Linked DNA regions of Homo sapiens: all the other regions are linked to region 1. Evidence: fine-mapped expression QTL. A gene starts in region 1. Each other region holds a variant in brackets. All regions are shown on one strand. Distances are from middle to middle. Region 1 holds the start of CARMIL1 (capping protein regulator and myosin 1 linker 1). Region 2 overlaps CARMIL1 (capping protein regulator and myosin 1 linker 1). Region 3 overlaps CARMIL1 (capping protein regulator and myosin 1 linker 1). Region 4 overlaps CARMIL1 (capping protein regulator and myosin 1 linker 1).

What was found. PIP is the estimated chance that this variant, and not a neighbour inherited with it, causes the effect. A credible set is the group of variants that fine-mapping cannot tell apart.
Region 2: its variant is the best candidate, but not a certain one, in a credible set for the expression of CARMIL1 in whole blood (Lepik 2017, PIP 0.60).
Region 3: its variant is the best candidate, but not a certain one, in a credible set for the expression of CARMIL1 in esophagus muscle (GTEx, PIP 0.88).
Region 4: its variant is the best candidate, but not a certain one, in a credible set for the expression of CARMIL1 in tibial artery (GTEx, PIP 0.54).

The regions. Positions count from the first base shown.
Region 1 is chr6:25,276,572-25,282,010 of GRCh38, forward strand. CARMIL1 (capping protein regulator and myosin 1 linker 1) reads left to right here and starts at 2,803. Exons shown (of 37, transcript NM_017640.6): 1 at 2,803-3,264. The coding sequence starts at 3,225. RefSeq lists a silencer at 2,531-3,000.
Region 2 is chr6:25,406,747-25,411,746 of GRCh38, forward strand. All of the region lies in intron 2 of CARMIL1 (capping protein regulator and myosin 1 linker 1), which reads left to right. The region is part of intron 1 of LOC124901281 (a long non-coding RNA gene); the gene reads right to left. Among named protein-coding and RNA genes, the nearest start is that of CARMIL1, 130 kb to the left of the region's middle. The variant T/C (reference allele first, on the strand shown) is at 2,340.
Region 3 is chr6:25,413,928-25,418,927 of GRCh38, forward strand. The region is part of intron 2 of CARMIL1 (capping protein regulator and myosin 1 linker 1); the gene reads left to right. All of the region lies in intron 1 of LOC124901281 (a long non-coding RNA gene), which reads right to left. Among named protein-coding and RNA genes, the nearest start is that of CARMIL1, 140 kb to the left of the region's middle. The variant A/T (reference allele first, on the strand shown) is at 2,745.
Region 4 is chr6:25,303,665-25,308,664 of GRCh38, forward strand. All of the region lies in intron 2 of CARMIL1 (capping protein regulator and myosin 1 linker 1), which reads left to right. Among named protein-coding and RNA genes, the nearest start is that of CARMIL1, 27 kb to the left of the region's middle. The variant C/T (reference allele first, on the strand shown) is at 2,328.

The sequences.
Region 1 (5,439 bases):
ATTTTAGGGACACTATTTTCTGCAAACTTTTTTACTCAGAGTGTTTTCTGACCATAATGCATTACAAAATGTACTATATAGATGTGAATATATGCTTAGAATTAAAAATAAAAATCCATGGATAAGTTTTCAAAATAATGTTGCCACTCACTGTATGTTTCAAAAGAGATGGGGTTTCACTATGTTGCTCAGTCTGGTCTGTCCCAAACTCCTGGGCTCAAGCAATCCACCCACTTCGGCATCCCAAAGCATTTGGAATTACAAATGTGAGCCACTGCACCTGGCCTTGCCATGCTTTTCAAATTACACTCTTCTCCATCTTCCTTTTCAAAATAATGTTGCCACTCACTATATGTTAAATGTTAAACATTTTACAGATTCAAATGCAGTAGGGATTCTCTGAAAAAGTTTTATCTTACTAACAGCTTTCAGATTATCAGTACTAGTTGTATGGCTTAAACACAGCCACATGTAAATACTTACTTAGATGAAGCTATGGCTAATCACATATGTAACACAATCAGTTTCATGTAGTGGTTTGATCACTCGTGTATTCAAGACTATATAAACAGGGATGAATTTGAGGAAGTTGGAGTGATGGAGTGAGAAAAGTTTGTTTTTGCAGCAGTAGCAGTAGAAGGGGCAGGCCGATTCAGTAAACAAGCACACATTTCAGAATGCAAACTGCATTCTCCAAGCTGGCACCATGGTTTTACGGTGCTAGGGATGTTTACTGCTTGTTGGGTTTGCAGCTTTATAAACAGTGCTCCTTGGAGTTCTCTGCTTGCTATTCTGAAACATATTTGAGTTTTGCAACCGAGAAGTAAATGACTTTGATTTCCAAAATCAGTCAGTCATTTTTCAGTGTTGTGATAGGAGATTCATTTGAATTCACTTCTTCAGAGATGCAGGAGCCAATCAGGATCCTGTTGCAGTGAAAATGATTCTTTTATTGAAACCCCAGCTTCCTTTAAAAGAAGCCAAAGAGTACTGAATTACAGAACTGCCATACAGCCTTCCCTTTATTCTTTCCATCACCCAGGCCACAGGAAAAAAAAAAAAAAGACAAACTTTTGTTCTTATTTTCACAAGTTATCACATGGTTTGGAAACTTCAGGGCATTTCTGAAACTTCATTGGTATGTGCCAGAAAAGTCCTCTTTAACACACCAGGTTGAATGAAAGACAGTTTGAGATGTTAATTTCCATTTACTGCAGAAAAAATATATTTAATGCATTAAGGAAATGTCTAGCTTAAAGAAATTGCCCACTTTTGAAACAAATGGTTGGAGGCCTGAGGTCCAAAGCTCTAAAATCAGTTAACAAATGTTTATTGAACACCTATTTTGAACTAGGCTGTTGAAGAAGTTCAAAAGTCTAAGATAAATTCCCACTTTCAACTCACCTACAGTCTAGTTGGGCAGAAAAAATCCAAACTCAGGGGACAATGCAAGAGTTAGATAGTAAAACCAGACAAATACACAAGCAATGAAACACGACACCATATGGTTGGGTTTAGAAAAGTGTTTCAGGCAATACATATTGTAGAGGCTTAGGGATCACAGTAATCTGAAAATCCCTGGAAAATATTCACAAAGAAGGTAGACCATTGGGATGGGTTTGAAAACATAGATAAGAATCAGATAACCTTAAGAGGAAGGAGGAAGCAAACAGTGAGTCTGGTTGTAATAGAGAAGGGAGTGGGAGAGGTTAAGGAGGGTGGGAAGGGGCCAGGTTGGCAAATCCTTAGTGGTAAGGCCTGGCTGTGGGGCTGAAGATGATTCTAAGGGGTCCAAGGTCAACAGCAGTGTTTAAAATTAGATTGCCAAGTGCATGGATTCCCTTTCCTTTCCTCCTTTTCTGTCCTTTAAAAGCAGAACCTGATTAGACAGTCTGGGACATTCCCAGCCCTAGGCTAAAAAGCAGCGATTGAGGCACAAAGTATTCTTGGCCCTGAAGTTGAACCTCTGGGGATGGAGCTCAGGGAAGTCATAGGGAGTTTGGGCCCAGGTAGGATCAGACCTATCCGCAGGCTTACATAGGCTCCAGTGATTAAAGCTCAGCTTCCTGAATATGCCCCGAGGATAAAAGAGACTTTTCCGAGTGAAAGGCATTTTCCAAGGCGCTCTCAACGGGAATGTCTGAGATAGCGAACTGCGGCTGCAGAGCACCAGCTGAACGCACACACACAAGTGTCTTCTCACGGTATGATTAGTGTTCACAGGTTTCGTCTAGCTCATCAGAAATGAAGAATAGCGATGATGAAGTGACATGTCACCGGGAGGGTTGAAAAAGAAAAAGTGCGTAAGAGGGTCCCAAAAAGAACCAGCTTCCGTGTAGACGGGTCTGCAGAATCTGCCGTCTCCCGTCTTCTGGGTCCCCTGGCCCGCCCGGAGTGGGGACAAGGAAATGGAAAGCCCGGCTCACCCGGCTCTCCTCCCTCGCAGCCAGCAGATGGCTCCCGGGCTCTCTCGCGAGCCCGCTCGCCCCCTCTCCAGACGCAGGGCTTTTGCGGTTTGGGAGGGAGGCTGCGAGGAGGGGCGCGGTGCCCGCCGCCGCCACCGCAGCACCGCACAGCGTCTCTCCTGGGGGTGCGACCTACGCCGGGGACCCAGCGCTCGGGCACCGGAGGCCGGCCTCGCACCGGTGCGGAGGCCGGCTCTCGCGAGGTGAGGAGGAAACGCAGGAGGAAGAGGAGAAGGAGAAGGAGGAGAAGGAGGAGGGCCGGAGCTGCCCCCGCCCAGCCGGAGCCCGGCAGGAGCGCGAGGAAAACCTACTCCCCCCGCCCCGCGCCGCTCTCCCCGCCCTCTCCCACGCCTTCCGCTTTCACCTAGGGCTGTAGGTGCGGCGCGGAGGCTGGGCGGGAGCTACGCCGGCCCAAGCCCCGCCGGGGACCAGCGAGCCGGGAGGAGGAGCAGGCGCCACAGCCGCCCCGCGCCCCGCGCCCGCTTGTAATCCGGTCCGCTCCTTATTCAGCCGCCGGGAACTGCGAGGAGGCGTCATGTAGCAGCAGCAGCAAATCCGCCTCGCATTTGCAACTCTTTTTTTTTTTTTTGGTGGGGCGGGGGGCGCGCGGCAAAATTCTGTCTCCGCCCCCCCTTTTCTTGCCCACTTCCATTTGCAAGCTGCATCTGCCTCTCTAAAAAAATTGAGGAGTTCGGGGAAGGGCAGGGGGCCATAAATCAGAGTTGGACCTGCAATAACCCCCACACCTACAGGGCAACCATGACCGAGGAGAGCTCTGACGTTCCCAGGGAGTTGATAGGTAAGATTCACGCGGTTGTTGGTTTTCCACCTTCCTCTGCGTACTCCTCACCTCTCTCTCCCTTCCCACCTCTGCTTTCCCGCAGGTCTCGAGAAGTCTTGGCGCCCCTTAGGGCAGAGTGGTGTTGGGCAGGGTCACTGGGGGTGCCGGGAAGTTTGTTCCCATCCGACCGCCTGTAGAGCCAAGTGCAGAGAGGGAAGGCTTCGGGGAGGAATCGGGAGTCCTCGGGAGGTGGGTGGGAGGAGGGTCTCGACTGTGAGCCCTGGGCACCTCCTCTTGCCCGGAAGCGGGGATCCAGGTTGGCGAAAGAAGGGGGCGGGCCATCTTAGACTTGGGAGTTCTGCAAGCGAGGGGAGCCCTTTACAGCTCCCAGCCCACTGCCCCAAACTCGGGAAAGTCCGGGAAAGCCTATTGGAAGGACAGGTGGCGAGCGCACAGTAGGTCGTCTCCGGCACGTGTCAGGCGCTTTCCTGAAAATGCCCCGCGGGAGGTGATCTTCTGACACGCAGACTTGGGGGAGTGGGCGCTAGTCTGGTAAAATGACTGGGCTTGGCAAGGTGTGGCTTGGTGTAGCCAGCTGGGAGCGAAAGGGTTACAGGGCTGACGCAGACTCAGGCCAGGAAATAGAGGGTTAATGATAAAAGCCTTATTTTAATAATGATTAACCTACCGATTCTCCCTATAGGGGATCTCTTAGGGAACCCGTGTGTGTTACGCTGTGCAAGGTGACCCATTGTTTGAGTACCTTGAGGTTTTTTTTTTTTTGGTGGTGGTGGGGGCGGGGCTGGTTAAGTCTTGGGGTTTAACTTAATTATCTGGAGGGTTAAAATGGCAGAGCTGAAATAGGATGGGAGAGTGTTCTGAAAACCTAGCGTTTAAGCATGTATATGTGTGTAGCATGTTATACTGTAACAAGGTATGTGCGTCTGTGTACAGATGTGTTTTGAGCCCTAGTGACCTATATTCCCTCCTGTACCATTCTTGGCACACTACACAGCCTACAGCTCACAAAGATGATGTTTAATCGGCGCTGACAACAAGAGGAAGTTCTGAGCACCCGTTGATCTCCATGTGTGGAATTTGCCCCTCTGTTGTTTCTTTTAGCTAATAATACTTTGGAGGAATTTGTGTATGCCCTTCCGTTGGTGACTGTTAACTCAGCAGGTAAAACTTGATGTAGAGAGGCTGTTGCTAGGTTTGTATGGAAGCCCCTACTTCTGCTGAATTACAGACAAACCTGATCTTTTACCAGAATTTACAGTATGAAATTATTCACAGACGCACGCGCGTGTGCGCGCGCGCACACACACACACACACACACACACACACACACGCACCTCTCATCATGATCCCAGCAGATCCTCTTCTCTCTCCCCAACCCTGTGGAGTCTGCATCTTTTGCTGGAGTGAGTGACACATCCGGTTCTGGGAGGCTGCGACCTTTCCAACACCCCAAGCAAACGCCAGAGGCTCTGAAGACGCCTCCAGAGGTCCTGAGAATGAGTGTAGGGCAGGGCTTGCCTGGCTGGTCAGGGGATAAGGATGGCTAAAGTGGGTGGCAGATTTTTACTTTATATAAGGAGTTGTCCTTAAGTCTGGAAATGGAAAGTGTAGGTAATTACTTAGGCCCAAGAGAAAGAGTGAAGGGTAGAGTGGAAATAAGGTGTCTGGGTTTCTATTCATGGTTCTCAAAAGGAATAGTTTGTATATTTTAAAAGTTGAGTTTGACCTTTATCTTGAAATGGAATTTTTGTTTTTATTAAGTATTGCCTATCTCTTTCAAGAGAGTGACATATTATGCCCGATATGATTTTTCTGGGCCTTTCAGTGGTCAAGTTAGGCTGGGATAGAATAAATACCTGCACCTGCTTTCCTCTAAATTCAAGTGCTCACAAGAGTTCTGCTCTGATCAATTCAAAATGGCGACCGACCACATGAAAACCTCTATATATTCCCTTAAGATTCCCTCAAGATATTTAAAAAGTGTTACAGACTTGGCTGAGCGTGGTGGCTCACCCCTGTAATCCTAGCACTTTGGGAGGCCGAGGCAGGTGGATCACCTGAGGTCGGGAGTTGGAGACCAGCCTGACCAACATGAAGAAACCCGGTCTCTACTAAAAATACAAAAATTAGCTGGGCGTGGGGGCACGTGGCTGTAATCCCAGCTACTCGGG
Region 2 (5,000 bases), 130 kb after region 1:
AAGGGCAGATTTTGAAAGAAAGATCATGGTTTAGTTGTTGACATGCTGAATTTAAGGGTTGGAGTACATACAAGTGAAGTTAGATCAATAGATCTGATGATCGGAGGGGAGATCTGGGCTGTGCATAAAGTTGGGAGTCATCTGGGATGGACTGAAGTCATGAGAGAGAATGAATGGTAGCAGGGAATGGGGATTGGACATGTGACTAGGAATAACCACAGAGGCCAGTTGAAAATGTATGGAAACGAGAACATCAAGCATGAAGGGCCATGCCCAGTGCTAAGGAGAAATCTGGTTAGGAAGTGCATGGATTTAGCAGCCGTGAGGTTGGATTTAGCAATCAAGATTGGCACCTCAAGCAGGAGAAATTTAAGTGGAGTTGTGGGGACAGAAGCCAATTTTGAACACTAGATGAGTGAATTGGAGGCAGGAATATGAAGACACTGAGTATGGGTACCTTTTTTGAGAAGTTGGGCTCAAAGGGTAGAGACAGTTAGAGGGGACCTGCAAGAGGTGTGTAGGATCCAGGCATATAGCTCTAGGTCTAAACATCTCTATGTTTGGATATTTAGAGATGGAAGAGAAAGGATATTTAGTTGCTTAAGGTTCCTGCAAAGACAGGTGGGATGTAACCCAGAGCCCACACGAAGGGACGGGCATTTATCTCCAGCACTTCAGAAGGAGAGGAAGAGGAGGGGGTGGGTACAGCTGCAGATGCAGGCAGGTGTGGAGGTTTGGAGTGGAATGGTAAGTGATACCATTCTGATAATTTCTGTTTTCTCTGTGAAGTAGGAGGGAAAGTCATCTTCCCAGATGAAGGGAACGGAATCAGGTTGCTGGGTAAGATCAGTTCTCCAGCTGTGCTTGGCAGCTACCACTGCAAGCATGGAATAGGCGGCTAGGTAAGTTCAGCCAAGATTGAAGTTTTACTCTGTGGGAGTAATAAAAGGACAAGGAACACGAAGGCTAAGGACATTAACACATGGAGGAATGATTTCAGTGGAGGTTCAGTTGGATGAAGATAGGTTAGTGCTGATGGAGAATGACCTGGCAGTGTCAGGGGGCAATAAACAGGGTAGTGGTAGTACCTGAATAAGGGAACTAGCTATGAGTGCTTCTCCAACTGTAATGCTAATGTGAATCACCTGGGGATTTTAGTAAAAACGCAGATTCTGATTCAGCAGGTCTGGGCTGAGGCCTCAGATTCTGCATTTCTAACAAGTTCCTGTCACGCCAGCCTCTCTGGCCCGTGGATCACACTGTGAGGGCCAGGTGTGGTGGTGCATGACTATAATCCAAACACTTTGTGAGGCCCAGGTGGGAGGATCACTTGAGCTGAGGAGTTTGAGACCAGCCTGGGCAACATAGACGTCATCTCTACAAAAAGTTTAAAAATTACCTGGGTGTGGTGGCTTGTGCCTGTAGTAGCTACTTGAAAAGCTGAGGCAGGAGGATCACCTGAGCCTGGGAGGTCAAGGCTGCAGTGAGCCGAGATTGCACCACTGCACTCCAGCCCGGGTGACAGTAAAAGCCTGTCTCTTAAAATAAAAAAAAAAAAAAAAAAAAAAGATTTCGGGCAGAGAGTGGGATGCCTGAATTAGAAATCGTTTGACATGGTATAATCTCAAGCAGTAACTAACATGGCCCAGGATATGACAGAGTGAACAAGAAGGCCGAAGAATTCAAAGGCTTCCTGATCATCATATCTTTAGGGATGCAATGATTTACACTGACTATCGCCAACACTTTTCTAAGCACCTTGTGTGTATTACCTTCTTTAATCCTTATGACAACCTCCAGTGAGGTATATATTGTGATCCCATATTTTACAGATGAGGAAAGTAAGGCACACAGAGGTCTTTCTCAAAATCATTCGTGCTTGTAAGTGGTGGGACCAGAATTCAAACTGGGGTGGTACAGTTTCAAAGCCTAGTGCTCTGCATGATTGGATGCTGTATTGTCCCCTGATGAGAGAAGTTGGGGCTGTATAGAAAGTGTGAGGTGGGAGGATCATTTGATCCCAGGAGTTAAGACCGGCCTGGGCAATGTAGTGAGACCCTGTCTCTACATAAAATAGAAAAAAAAAAAAAAAGATTTTGAGCCAGGTATTAGCCTCACCTATGAATGAAGTTCAGCATATCTAGGAGAGTGCTAGGCACAGTACTTGTAGGCTTTTTACATGTTACCCCTTTAATCCCCACAACTGTCCAACAGAGTCTATTTCATACTGATTCTACAGGTAAGAAAAATAAAATTTAGGAGGTTAGGTAGTTGATAAATGGAGGAGTTGGTAATTTGATCTAAATTGGTCTGGATTCAAAGCCCATTCTTCCTTTATA[T/C]CAAAGTTTATCCCATCACCATATAGAAATGGAAATTCTCTTCTAATTCTTAAATAGGTTATAGTTACCATGGGAGTATTCTCCCCCTTGCTCTGACTCAAGCCACATGCTGAAGATGATGTGTTACGAATAAGGCTGAGACCAGGAGACTGGGCTTCTGGGCTCAGCTCTGTTTCTAACTAGCAAGTTTGCACACTGTCTCTGTAGGTCTCACACCTTTGTCCCTGTGGATCATTTTCAGAGCTATATTCTATAAGTTTGAGGACAATTATTATGGCTCCTTTTATATTAGTATCTACTGTATGCTCAGCACTTGATAGGTTATCTCTAGTACTTAAACTAGGATACAGATTGTCTCCAATTTAGAAGTGAAAAAGCTGAGGCCTGGAGATTTCAAGCAACATGCCTAATACCTCTCAGTCCACAAAATGGCAAAGCTGAGATTTCGCCTGAAGTGTGTCTGACTCTAAAGCTCATGTTCTTGCCATCTTACCAGCTGCCTCATCCTCATCTATAGCCTCATGGTGGATCCCGCTTACAGGTGCATATGGTACCGTATGCTAGTATTTATCAAACTTTCAAAACCTGGATCCAGAGTAAAACATGCATTTTATATTGATTTCGAGAATTGTGCACACACACACACATTTGCATGCGAGTACCATGTATATACTGACATCACTCAAACAAGTTTTGTGAAATAATGCTCATGTTTTCTACTTGCTGTGCCTTGGCTTTCTTTTCCTTTTCACTTTGGTTTAGTCTGTCATATTAATATGCTCATTAAACTCTGATGAATTGATTTAACTACCCACCAATGGGTTGTAGCCCTCAGTTTGAGAAGCACCGCTGTAAATTATATACCTACCTTAATTTCTTGATAGGATTACCCCAAATCTTATATTCTCCTTCTTTCCTTATTTTTTATTCTCTGAATTTAATGAAGACTATTTCTCTGATTATATATGTAATGGTGTTAAATCTAAATCAACCCCCCCCGCCCCCCGCCGCCATATGGCAACCACCTTTCTGCAAAGTGGGAAACTATCTTATAACTTTGTTCTGAGAGAAGGAAAGAAAATATGTATTTTTTTCATTTGATGAAAATGCTAATATAACAAGGGAGGGAGAAAGAAGTGACATTTGTGTTTCCTTGGCTTGAGAAGATGAGAATGTAAGGCCAAGAAACACAGACAAGTTGAAATGATGTAGGCTGGGGAGGGACTGCGGCAATAGACTTACAGTAAAAGAAAAGTGAAACTGATTTCTTGTTCCAACTCTTCCATTTAGCATTTATTGGACTCCTTCATGTGCCAGGTACTTGTGTTTTGCATGTATTATCTCAGGTGAGGAGACAGAGGTATGGGAGGCTGAGTTACCTGCCCAAGATTGCATGGTTGGTAGAGAGTGGTCTAGCAGACTCCCTGGAGCCAGTGCTCGTTGTCACTAGGCCATAGCTGCCACTTGTCTCAACTTTTGAGTAATTCTGTGTGGTCTTTATTTGGTGCCAGGCCCAGGAGGGGACTTTTGCGCCCTAGGCTTTGAATCTTGAGAGGGAACATGCTAGGGTGGAAGATTGGAGTCAATTTGTTCCACGAGGGCAGCCAGAGGAACTCCTTATTAGTCCCTGCTTCTCCCATCTTTAGAGTTGATTTGGTTTCTGTCTCTACTGAGTTCTGGTTGTTCTTTTGATTACAAGAACTACTCAATTTCCTTTAAGTAAATTTATTTATTCTTAAAATTCTGTTGCTTGAAACTAAGAATAAGCCCTAATAGGCACAGAGGAATAATTTAACTCTTCCTGATCTGTTTCCTCATCTGTAAAATAAAGGAAAAGGGCACACATATCCCCTGACCCCTCTTAACTCTCTCATCTTTAGCTAGAATTGGGTTCTAGTGATTCTCAAATGGATGTGTTCTAAAAGAGGCTGGCTGGCCCTGTGTTGGGGAAGCAGAAGTTTTAGTAATTAATTAGGTTAATATGAACTTTATAGTTATATTTTTTCTGTATTCCCTGAATAACTGTGACTCTATTACTTGTGAATTTATTTAAAACATAAATATGACAGTGATGACTAGATGAGGTCTCTTAGCACACATGCCCTATGCAGACCTGTGAGTCCCCTGCTGTCTGCTCACCCAATAGTTGAGGGCCTGGGTAGGAGTTCTGCCACATGTGAGTTCTTAACACAAAATCCTCATGGACCCTGTGGGCCTGGAGCTGGATACTTCACTCATCTTCACCCTTGGCCTCATGCTAAGAATTACCATCCTGCCACCACTTAAAGATGCCCATTCATGTTAGTGTGTCACTGCTAAAGTACTGTCATTAAAGAAGACCTATCATTACTCTGACTTTAAAATACATTGTTCTAACAGAATCACTATGGGAGATTCCAGACTTCTGTATCAGCGGGTGCTTTGAAAAGAGGATCTGATATGTACTGGCCCCTGTGTTCACCTGTGGGCGAACATTAGACATGTTTGTTTCTTTTATGCTTTGATAACACCTTACAACTTGCAATAGTGTGACTTTGGAAAGAATGAAGTGATTGTGTCTGGCATGCTGTATGTAAACATTCCATTTCTACATAATGTGAAAAGGAATGAATTAGGTGAAAATAAATGGATTTGCACAGGTGTTAGAGTACGTAGATTTCC
Region 3 (5,000 bases), 140 kb after region 1:
TTCTTTTGACAAAAACAATTATTAAAAAATTCAGTAGGTGAAGCAACTTAATCTTACTTTGTGAAACTAAATCTAAGATGCTATTAGTTAAGTTATAAGAAGAGCTGGTGTTTAGCAAAGGCATATTAGGTTCTGGGGTAGGGCTTTATCTGCATTTGTATCTTATTTAATCCACACAACAGTAACAGTCCTGCAGAGGAATATTCTTGTTTGAGCATCTCTTGTATGAGGCACCTCAGTTTGCTCATCTGTAATTCTGTAATCTCTAACTCTCTAGAGATAACAAAAGTCTATCAGGTTTAAGTGGCAGAGCCAGAATCTGAATATAAGTCTTTCTGATTCCAAAATTCAAGCTAGTAGATTGACCAACAGTCCCAGTTTTCTGGGATGCAGGATTCTCAGCCCTGAAACTAGAAACGTCTTATACAAACAGAAAGAGTTGGTCACCCTACAAGCAGGATGCCTCCCATCCCAGGCACTGAAGAAGTATTCATTATCAGGAAACCCTTTTTGGTAAGTCACAGAGGATGTGTCCTGTGCAACTGCCCCTGACTCTGCTAGAAACCATGTGTGTGTACTATAAATCCTCTGAAGCTTTAAATCCTAGGGCAGTTTTGGAGCCAAACAGAGAGGCTGGGAGACTGAGTTCATTGGGATTTCTAGTATGAATGTAGCCCCATTAATTGGCTCGGTTTGTGTTGATAAAACAAGAGTCACAATCTGACTTGTAACAGTAGTATTTGTAATTTTCATTCTTGCTTTAAAATATTGCTGCCCTGTTGTACCCACAAGTGGGTACAGTTTTGGGAAAGCTTGGAAGATTTCCTCTATTCCAACCCCCATCCCCTTCCACATTTTCTGTGAACTCTCTGTGTCTCTGGAGGCTTTCACTGACCACCAGAAATGGGGACCATCCTGCACAAAGCTTTTGTAGCTTATCAGTCTTCCTTCAAAGCCTGGGCTCCCTTATGAATGTGTTTCTTTTCAGACAAATTATTTTGATCTGTATCCAACTTCTGAAGGACACTGTGTACTTCCACTGCCTGTAAAATACTTTTAAAGAAAGGGAGTTGACACAGAGGGCCACAGATTGTGAACCTTATTATTGCTGGGGTGAAGGTAGAAATGATCATTAGATCCTCATGTATCTACCTGTAGTTACAAAATTAATCTTTACTCAAAAGATGAATCCATATGAACATTCTGGTTTCTTTTTTCTACTCTTTTTTTTTCTATTTCATTTTTTATTTTTAGAGATGGGGTCTTGCTCTGTCACCCAGGCTGGGGTGCAGTGGCACCATCGTAGCTCACTGTAACCTCGAACTCTTGGACTCAAGAGATCCTCCCACCTCAGCCTCCTGAGTAGTTGGGACTACAGGTATGAGCCACCACACCCAGCTCTCCTCTTGTTTTAAATATTCTGACCCTAGTTCATACCCTGTCAGTGGCCTCTAGAAACTTCCTATGGTGACTGTTCTGGAAAGGGCAAGTCAAGAGAAGACAAGCAGGTCACCTGACTCCCTCCCTCTTCCTCTCCCCACCCCCCACCCCCACTCCCCCACTGGTAGTGGGAGCGTTATTCCCTAAAGTGCAACAATTGTCAAAGGATGGAATGGCTGGCTGGTTCCTTGTGTTAGTGATTGCTGTTGTATTTCAGTTGTTTGGGTGCATGTTTGAGATTAGTTTTTAAGACTTATTAATTAGATTCACACAGGGGACGTTGTAATCACTTAATAGCCAATATGCTCATTGTATAATGATGTCAAAAGGTGTCTAATTATTTTTGGTTCATACTTTGTTCACGTTTTTCTGTAACTGTGTTACAAATGAAATACTTTTCTAGAATGCATTCTTTCTTCTGTGATTGGTGTCTATTGTCTTGCAAAAGGAATAAATAAAGTAACAAGTTCTCAAGTGATTCTCATGGAGAAGGGGCTGGGGAATGGAGGGCAGAATGAAGGCAGGGGAGGAGCGCACCAGAAGAGGGAAAGGAGATGGAGCAAGACGGGGTGGAGTGTGGGGGACACTGGCAGCAGTAGCAGAGAGAGGGGTCAGAGGAGGGGTGGGGAGCCAGTGAGGAGAGGCACAGATAGACTGAGAGGTACATACGTAGAATCATGTAGACAGATACAGAACAGAGATAAGAGAGAAATTCAGAGACACAGAGACTAACAGATGATGGCGGTGCATAGAAAGAGACAGAAGGAGACACGCAGACCAGTAGGGATTGGTCCTTTTCCTTATGATATCCAAACATCTCTCATTGTACTGCTGGTCATTTTACGTGTTTGCTTCTTTCTGGCTTTAAAGCTCCATGACTCATCTATGTTTCCATGTGTGTGGACTATTGAGGAATCTGTTTTTTGGAAAGGTGAGCTTTGACAGCCAGTATAAGTCATTAGGAACACCATCTCTGGAACCAGACCATCCAGGCTCAAATCCCAACTGCCACCTACTTGCTGGATGACCTGCACAAATTACATAATCTCCATGTGCCTCTGTTTCTTCATCTTAAAATGGGGATTATAATAGTGTTTTCCTTATAGGGTGCTGTGAGGATTAAATGTGGTAACATATACAAACCTATTAGAACAGTGTACTCAACAGGTACTGGCAATTATTACTATGTTTGTGAAAGGATCCTGAATTCCTTTGAAGGAAAGTTCACAGTTAAATATATTTTTATGAATACTGAAGAGGCTACAAGTTCCTGTCTTTGACTTTTGGCCTTGAACCTTACTTTT[A/T]ATGTAAGGTGAGAGTGGAGAGTTAATAGACTGAGAGTGAGGAGTTGCAGCTTCTAGTTCCAGCTCTGCCACTGACTAGCTGTGAGATGATGAGTTTCTCTGGACCTGCTGTCAGATAATATACAAACTCAGGGAATTTTAGGTCTTTGACAATGTGATGTTGAGACCTTTCTGGCATACGAGTTTTAGGATTTGTCTGTTATTTTACCTCTATGCAGAGGTTTTGTGGACCTAAGCTTTTTGGAAAGATTGGGGATTGATCATACCAGTACCCCTGGGAGAGAGAAATGTGTGTGCTGCTTTGTAAATAATAAAAAGGGAGAAATGGTGAGAATAGGGGACTGGCTTCCTATAGCCATGCTTATGATCATGGTTGTCAGCATTATTATCTTATTTCTTTTTCTTTTCCACTCTGGGGGAGGAGCAGTATTTGAAAGAGGGGTCATATCCTGGGGCTAAACTGGAGTAGAAGGTGCTGGATGCACTGTGGAGCTTAGTTCAGAGAAGGTGAATATTTCATCCTGTAAGATGAGTTCTAATCTTGTATTCCGCTCCCCAGACCTAGGCAAATGGCAGTGCAAGCCAAGCGTATCTCTGGTGCCTTTTATCTCCCTTTCCAAATTCCTCTTTATTACTGTCATGCTTCTTTTGATTATCTGATGCCTGTTATCCAACCCTGTGTGTCTCATGCAACAAAATGATCTCCTGCCCTTTTGCAAAAGGCCTGCAAACTCTTAATTCCCTGAGTACTGCTGTATTAGCCAAAGATTAACTAGTGCTGATGACAGAAGAGTTCAGCTCTCCAGGGCATACTTGGATTTAAAAAGAGCATTTTGAAAACTGTTGGAATGTTGAAAAAGGTACTCCTTCAAGCTGAGAGCTTTGTGGATCTCTTCCAGTCATGGCTGCCCTGGGCTATCCCTTCCTACCTTCACGGTAACTGATCTTCCAGGGGCTAGAGCACGAGGAGGCAGGATTGAGTAGTAACATATAAATATAGCCTGGTGGTTAAGAACATTGGTTTTGGTGTTAACAAAGCTGTAAGATTTAAATTATACTCTTCTTAAGGACCTTTTGAACTCTGATGCTTTTATAAACGATTTCTGCTCTAATTGAATGACCTTGAAGTGAGTTCATCACTGAGTCTCAATTTACTCATTTGAAAAATGGGAATAATGACATCAAATATAGTTGTTGTGAGGATTAAGTGTGCCACTCTCCTCAAAGATATTCACCTATTCATGGCACATAGAAAATGCTCGACAAAGAGTAGCAACGCTTAGGGACAGCTTTTATGGCTTGCAATCTGTACAGTTGCACAGGACACATCCACCAGGGGCTAGAGCACAAGGAGGCACGATTGAGTAATAACATGTAGACATATTGTGGTGGTTAAGGACACAGGCTTTGGCATTAACAGGTAAATGCAGCCAGAAAGTGGCAGAGCCAGAATCTGAATGTAAGTCTTTCTGATTCCAAAATTCAAGCTAGTAGGTTGACCAACAGTCCCAGTTTCCCGGGATGCAGGATTCTCAGCCCTGAAACTGGAAACACCTTGTGCAAACAGAAAGAGCTGGACACCCTACAAGCAGGATGCCTTCCATCCCAAGCATGTGAATTCTGTTTCTCCCCTAATTATATGACCTTGAAACGAGTTCATCATTTCCCTGCATTGGGTTAATGCCTTATTGTTATCGTCTTGAAATTCTTAATCATATTTGAACAATGTCCCTACAGATTATGTAGCCAGTCTTGCTACTACCGAGCTGCACTTGACCTCCCCGCACTCATCCTGGCCATACTTCATCCCTGTCCCTCTCCTTTCTACTGCCTGGTGCTTTGTCCCATTTCCTTGCCCCCAAGGCCTTAGGAGGGTGTAAAAAAAAAAAAAGATAAATTCCTCAGGGAAAAGATGTGATTTGGCTCACAGCATATGGAATATTCAAAGATAGACATCATCTGTTGCCCACATTTTTATGAGACTGACATGCTGCCTGTAGCATTGAGAAGGCACTGGTTGCCTACACTTTTAGAAGTCATTTATTAATGGCTTCCTAGGGCATGCCAACTCTAAAATCAAGCCACAAAAATGATACCAGGTAAAAATTGATCCTGTGAATAACTGTGACGGTGGCATTTGGGTGAAAGGTCTTGAAATGGGCTGTGTCTTTTCCCTCAACTTTCCTCACCCGCTTTTATCACACTCTCCCAGCCAGTGTCAGATTACTTCTCTTCTCATCTGTCTCATAAATAGTT
Region 4 (5,000 bases), 27 kb after region 1:
GACTCTGTTTTAGAATTTGCCATATCTGCTTTAACGCTGTACAAATTAGCCAACTGGAGAAATATATGTTAAATAACGGGTGAACAACACATAATCACCCAACCTACTTTTAGGAAGATTACTAAAACATTCCATTTAACAATCATTCAGCACTATCTGTTTGTAAAGGACACGTAAGTTTTAAAGGAAGAAGCTGGTGACTTGGGAATGGACTGGAATAAAGTCAGAGAAGTCCTTTGTCCAGGGAACTTCATCATTGGGTTTGACTTGAGAAGAACAAATCAGATAAGATTAGTCTCCTCATTATAAATGTTTAAGGTAATTTCAGATCACTCTGCTTTAAAAGTCTTGTGAAATGGGGTTGGGAAAGTTTCCTTAAATCATTTACACTTGTTGATTGTGTGCAGTTTATATTATGAGCCTGCTGCCCCCACAGGTGCTGAGCTGTGCTCACACATGGGAGGGGACATCACAGAAAAGAAGACGTAGATTTATTACCTATGGTTCTGAACTGGGACAATTGATAAAAATTACAGGTGCTGAGGATTGGCTTGAAACGCAGAATAATCTTCCTAACAGAGCTGTCCACTCATAGAATGTGCTTATTGTGAGGGTGGGGATAGAGGATGGGGAATTGAATTCCTTGCAGCTGGGTAAGTTCAAGTATAGATTGCTTGCCCTCTTAACTAGGATGTCCTATAGAACAGCCGTCCCCAACCTTTTTGGTACCAGGGAGTAGTTTTGTGGAAGACAATTTTTCCACAGACCGAGTGGGTAGGGGGATGGTTTTGGGATAAACTGTTCCACCTCAGATCATCAGGCATTAGATTCTCATAAGGAGTGTGCAGCCTGCTTCCCTCGCATGTGCAGTTCACAGTAGGGTTCACGCTCCTATGAGAATCAAATGCCTTGGCTGATCTGACAGGAGGCAGAACTCAGGTGGTAATGTTTGGTCACCTGCCGCTCACCTCCTGCTGTGCGGTCTGGTTCCTAACAGGCCACAGACTGGTACTGGTCCACAGCCCAGGGGTTGGGGACACCTGCTATAGAACATTCAAGTAGGAAAATACTTCCTTTGGTCTAAGATTCTGAAATTTACAATGTTCCCTGCTCATATATCAAATGATGTATTAGCTAGAGCTTATTGAATGTCACAGTTTTACTGTCAAGAACTTAAAACTTCTATTATGAGGCAGAGCATTTGGTAAGGATAGTTGAGTCCCTCAGTGACTGTTTGGATTGGTTCTATGTCCTAGGATTGAGTACATGATATCATTTTGATGAGGTTAAAATCCAATTAGGAGGTCTGTCCCTTTGGCTGCTGGCTGGGTTTGTTACTTTTTAGTTCCAGTAGAGATATGTGAAGCTTTTCTGAACATGTTTAGCAAGGTTTGATTTTGGCATTTCTGAATATAACTGTGAGAAGAATTATCTTCCTGCTGTCCTGGTGGCAGAAGACATTGGACTTTGTTTGCTTGTCTCTTTGGGGGCAGATACACGGGCATTTAAAGAGCCATTCTAATTTTAGGAACTTGAGAATCAGGAGTCCTGAGGGTTAGTGCTAATACTTTAAAAGGTTCTTAGGTCTGCAATTTTAGTTAATAGTGTGGGGCTGAAAAAGCCTTTTTCCAGGAATATTGTGAGAGTAAGTGGGAAGTAGAGCTTTTAGAATTTTAGGAGAAAAGGGCATGGCTATTTCAGTTAATAATACATGAAGAGTTTTCTCCTTTCAGAGTCCTCCTTTCTTTGGGTTTCAAAAGGTAAGACAATCCACGGGTTTTTTAGTTTGTCTTTCAGGTGAATTGTAAAGTTTTCCTGTAAATACTGTCATTGCACTGACATGGATATTGCTGAGCAGATAAAACAAATAGCAAGTTGAGGAGGCAGTTAATTCACACTCTTCCTTCTCTAATATGGTCTGCGGCTCTAAGAATTGTTGTCTCATCCATGGCTTTTAGACCCTTAAATTTTAGTGAGTTTCATCACACGGAAACTATTGATAATTTCTTCTTCTGAAGTTTTTTGTAAGTGGTCCCTGCTAGCTAATGGTGCACAAAATGAAGCAATACAACATTTCTCTTATGGGGACTGGGAGAGAACTGACATCCTTTATAAATATGTAGCTGATATATAGGTTACCAGCCTAAGGGCTGCCTGGTGGGGAAAGTGAGGCCTGTGCCTGTCTCTACCACTGAAGACATGTTCATCAAGCCAATATATGCCTCAGACATTAAAAATATCCTTTTTTTCATTTTAAAATAATTGCCATTAAGTATACATAACATAAAATTTACCATTTTAACCACTATTAATAAATATATGTTCAG[C/T]GGCATGAAGTATATTCTCAATGTTATGCAACGTATCCATTTCCAGAACTTTTTCATCCCAAACAGAAACTGTATCAAACACTGAGTCCTCATTCCACCTCCCCATCGCCCCTGACAATCACTAATCTACTTTCTGTTTCCATAGAAACAGAAAATATCCCTATTTGGCATGTTTTATATAAATCAATTATATAATACGTGGCCTTTTGTGTCTGGCTTGTGTCATTTAGCAGAAGGGTCCCCAACCCCAGGGCTGCGGATAGGTACTGTTCCATGACCTTTTAGGAACCTGGGTCACACAGCAGGAGGTGAGCGGCAGGTAAGTGAGCATTACCGCCTGAGTTCTACCTCCTGTCAGATCAGCGGTGGCATTAGATTCTCATAGTTACGAGAACCCTGTTGTGAACTGTGCATTCAAGAGATGTAGGCTGTGTGCTCCATATGAGAATCTAGTTGATGCTCGATGATCTGAGGTGGAACTTTTTCATCCTGAAACCATCTCTCCTCCCCCCCACTTTTATTGAAAAGTTGTCTTCCAGGAAACCAGTCCTTGGTGCCAACAAGGTTGGGGACTGCTGACTTAGCATATGTTTTCAAGTTTCCTCTATGTTGTAGCATGTGCTAGAAGTTCATTCCTTTTTAATGCTGAATAATATTCTGTTGTATGCATATACCAATTTTTAAAAAAGTCATTCATACTTCAATGGACCTTTGAATTGTTTTTATTTTTTGGCTACTGTGAATACTATTGTGAACATTACTGTATGGCTGAACATTGCTGTATCTGAGTTCCTTCTTTCAGTTCTTTTGAGTATATACCTAGGAGTGGAATTACTGGATCATATGGCAGTTCTGTGTTTAACCACCTGTTTCCTGCAGTGCCTTGGCTTTTTTTTTTTTTTTTTTTGACGAGTCTCATTCTTGTCGCCTGGGCTGGAATGCACTGGCACGATCTCGGCTCACTGCAACCTCTGCCTCCCCAGTTCAAGTGATTCTCCTGCCTCAGCCTCTGGAGTAGCTTGGCTTACAGGCGCCTGCCACCACGCCTGGCTAATTTTTTTGTATTTTTAGTAGAGACAGGTTTTCACCATGTTGGCCAGGCTGGTCTCGAACTCCTGACCTCAGGTGATCCGCCTGCCTTGGTCTCCCAAAGTGCTGGGATTACAGCTGTGAGCCACCGCGCCCGGTCGCCCTGGTCCTTTTGAAACTGGGCAGTAATACCTGTGCTTGTAAGAGTGTTTACAAATATTTATCAGCCTTTTGGAACTTTAAATTAGAAAAGTGAACAGACTGTATTTGTTAGCACTTTATATACTTACATTATGTCATGGAACTTATTATTCGTGTTTCCTGAATGTCTGTTGTTTGGATACCTGTGTGTGTTTCCTACTCTATTAGAAATTCCTTGACCTGATCTGCAGTTCTCCATCTTTGTCCACCTTTTTTGTACCTTGTACTCAATAAATGTTTGTTGATAAATTGATTAGATGTGCAACATATTCTAAAGTATTATTTTTAAAAAAGAGATCCATTTACAAGAAGCACATTGGAATTATTTCCAGGTTTTGTTTTGCTAAAGTTAAGATCTGACATTATTTGTTAATTTCTCTTGGTTATGGAATGAAAAGTATTCCCACTGTTAAAAATAAATGTTAGATGTAGGAAGTAAACAGAGATGTATTTAGACATTGGGGAAAGGCTTCCACTGGGATCTGAAATATTGTGGGAAGAGAATCGCTATTGTTAGAGTAGTTCTGTGCCGTGTTAGTCTTTATTTTGTTTAGATACTGCTTTTTTGGGGGACCACTCTGCAGGCATCTAAATCTGAAGTGTAAGCCTCTTTTTTGATAAATGAGGGATAGCTAAAAGATGGGTTATTTTGGTTATTGGTTTTGCTTTTAATAGATAACCAGAATTTTTACCTCTTGGGAGAGAATGTTATCTACTTATTTATAGCAAGCAAGTGTTGTTACGGCAGGTGGCTGTGGATGTTGGCATTCAAATGGCACTGATAAGACTTTAAACAAGGTAGCCATCCAGTTATGCTTAGGCTAAAAAATGGCTGTGTGCAGATTAGGCTACATATTTCACATGGATATAAAGTTCTACTTTTATTAACAAACATAACAGTGCATTGCTTTTGTGTTTTTAGTTTCTCTTAGCCCTTATTTCTTGTCTCTTTTGGTGGCTTGCTGTTGTCTATAGCTGAGCTGAAACTTTCTGTGCAGGAATTAAGCTTAAAATATCAGTTTGTAGTCAGCTGTGGAGTATGATAAAACTTTGAGCAACACAGTTTCCAACAACACCCCTTTGTCACTGTGCCTGAGAAAGCTCTTATTAATAGAATTTCATGTGAGGTTCCGTGAGAAGGACTATTGTACAACCATTTTTTTTTTTTTTTTTTTTTTGAGATGGAGTCTCCCTTTGTCACCCAGACTGGAGTGCAGTGGCACGATCTCGGCTTACTGCAACCTCTGACTCCCAGATTCAAGTGATTCTCCTGCCTCAGCCTCCCGAGTAGCAGGGACTACAGGCGCGTGCCACCACACCTGGTTAATTTTTTGTATTTTTCATAGAGATGGGGTTTCACCTTGTTGGCCAGGCTGGTCTCGAACTCCTGACCTTGTGATCCACCTGCCTTGGCCTCCCAAAGTGCTGGGATTACAGGCGTGA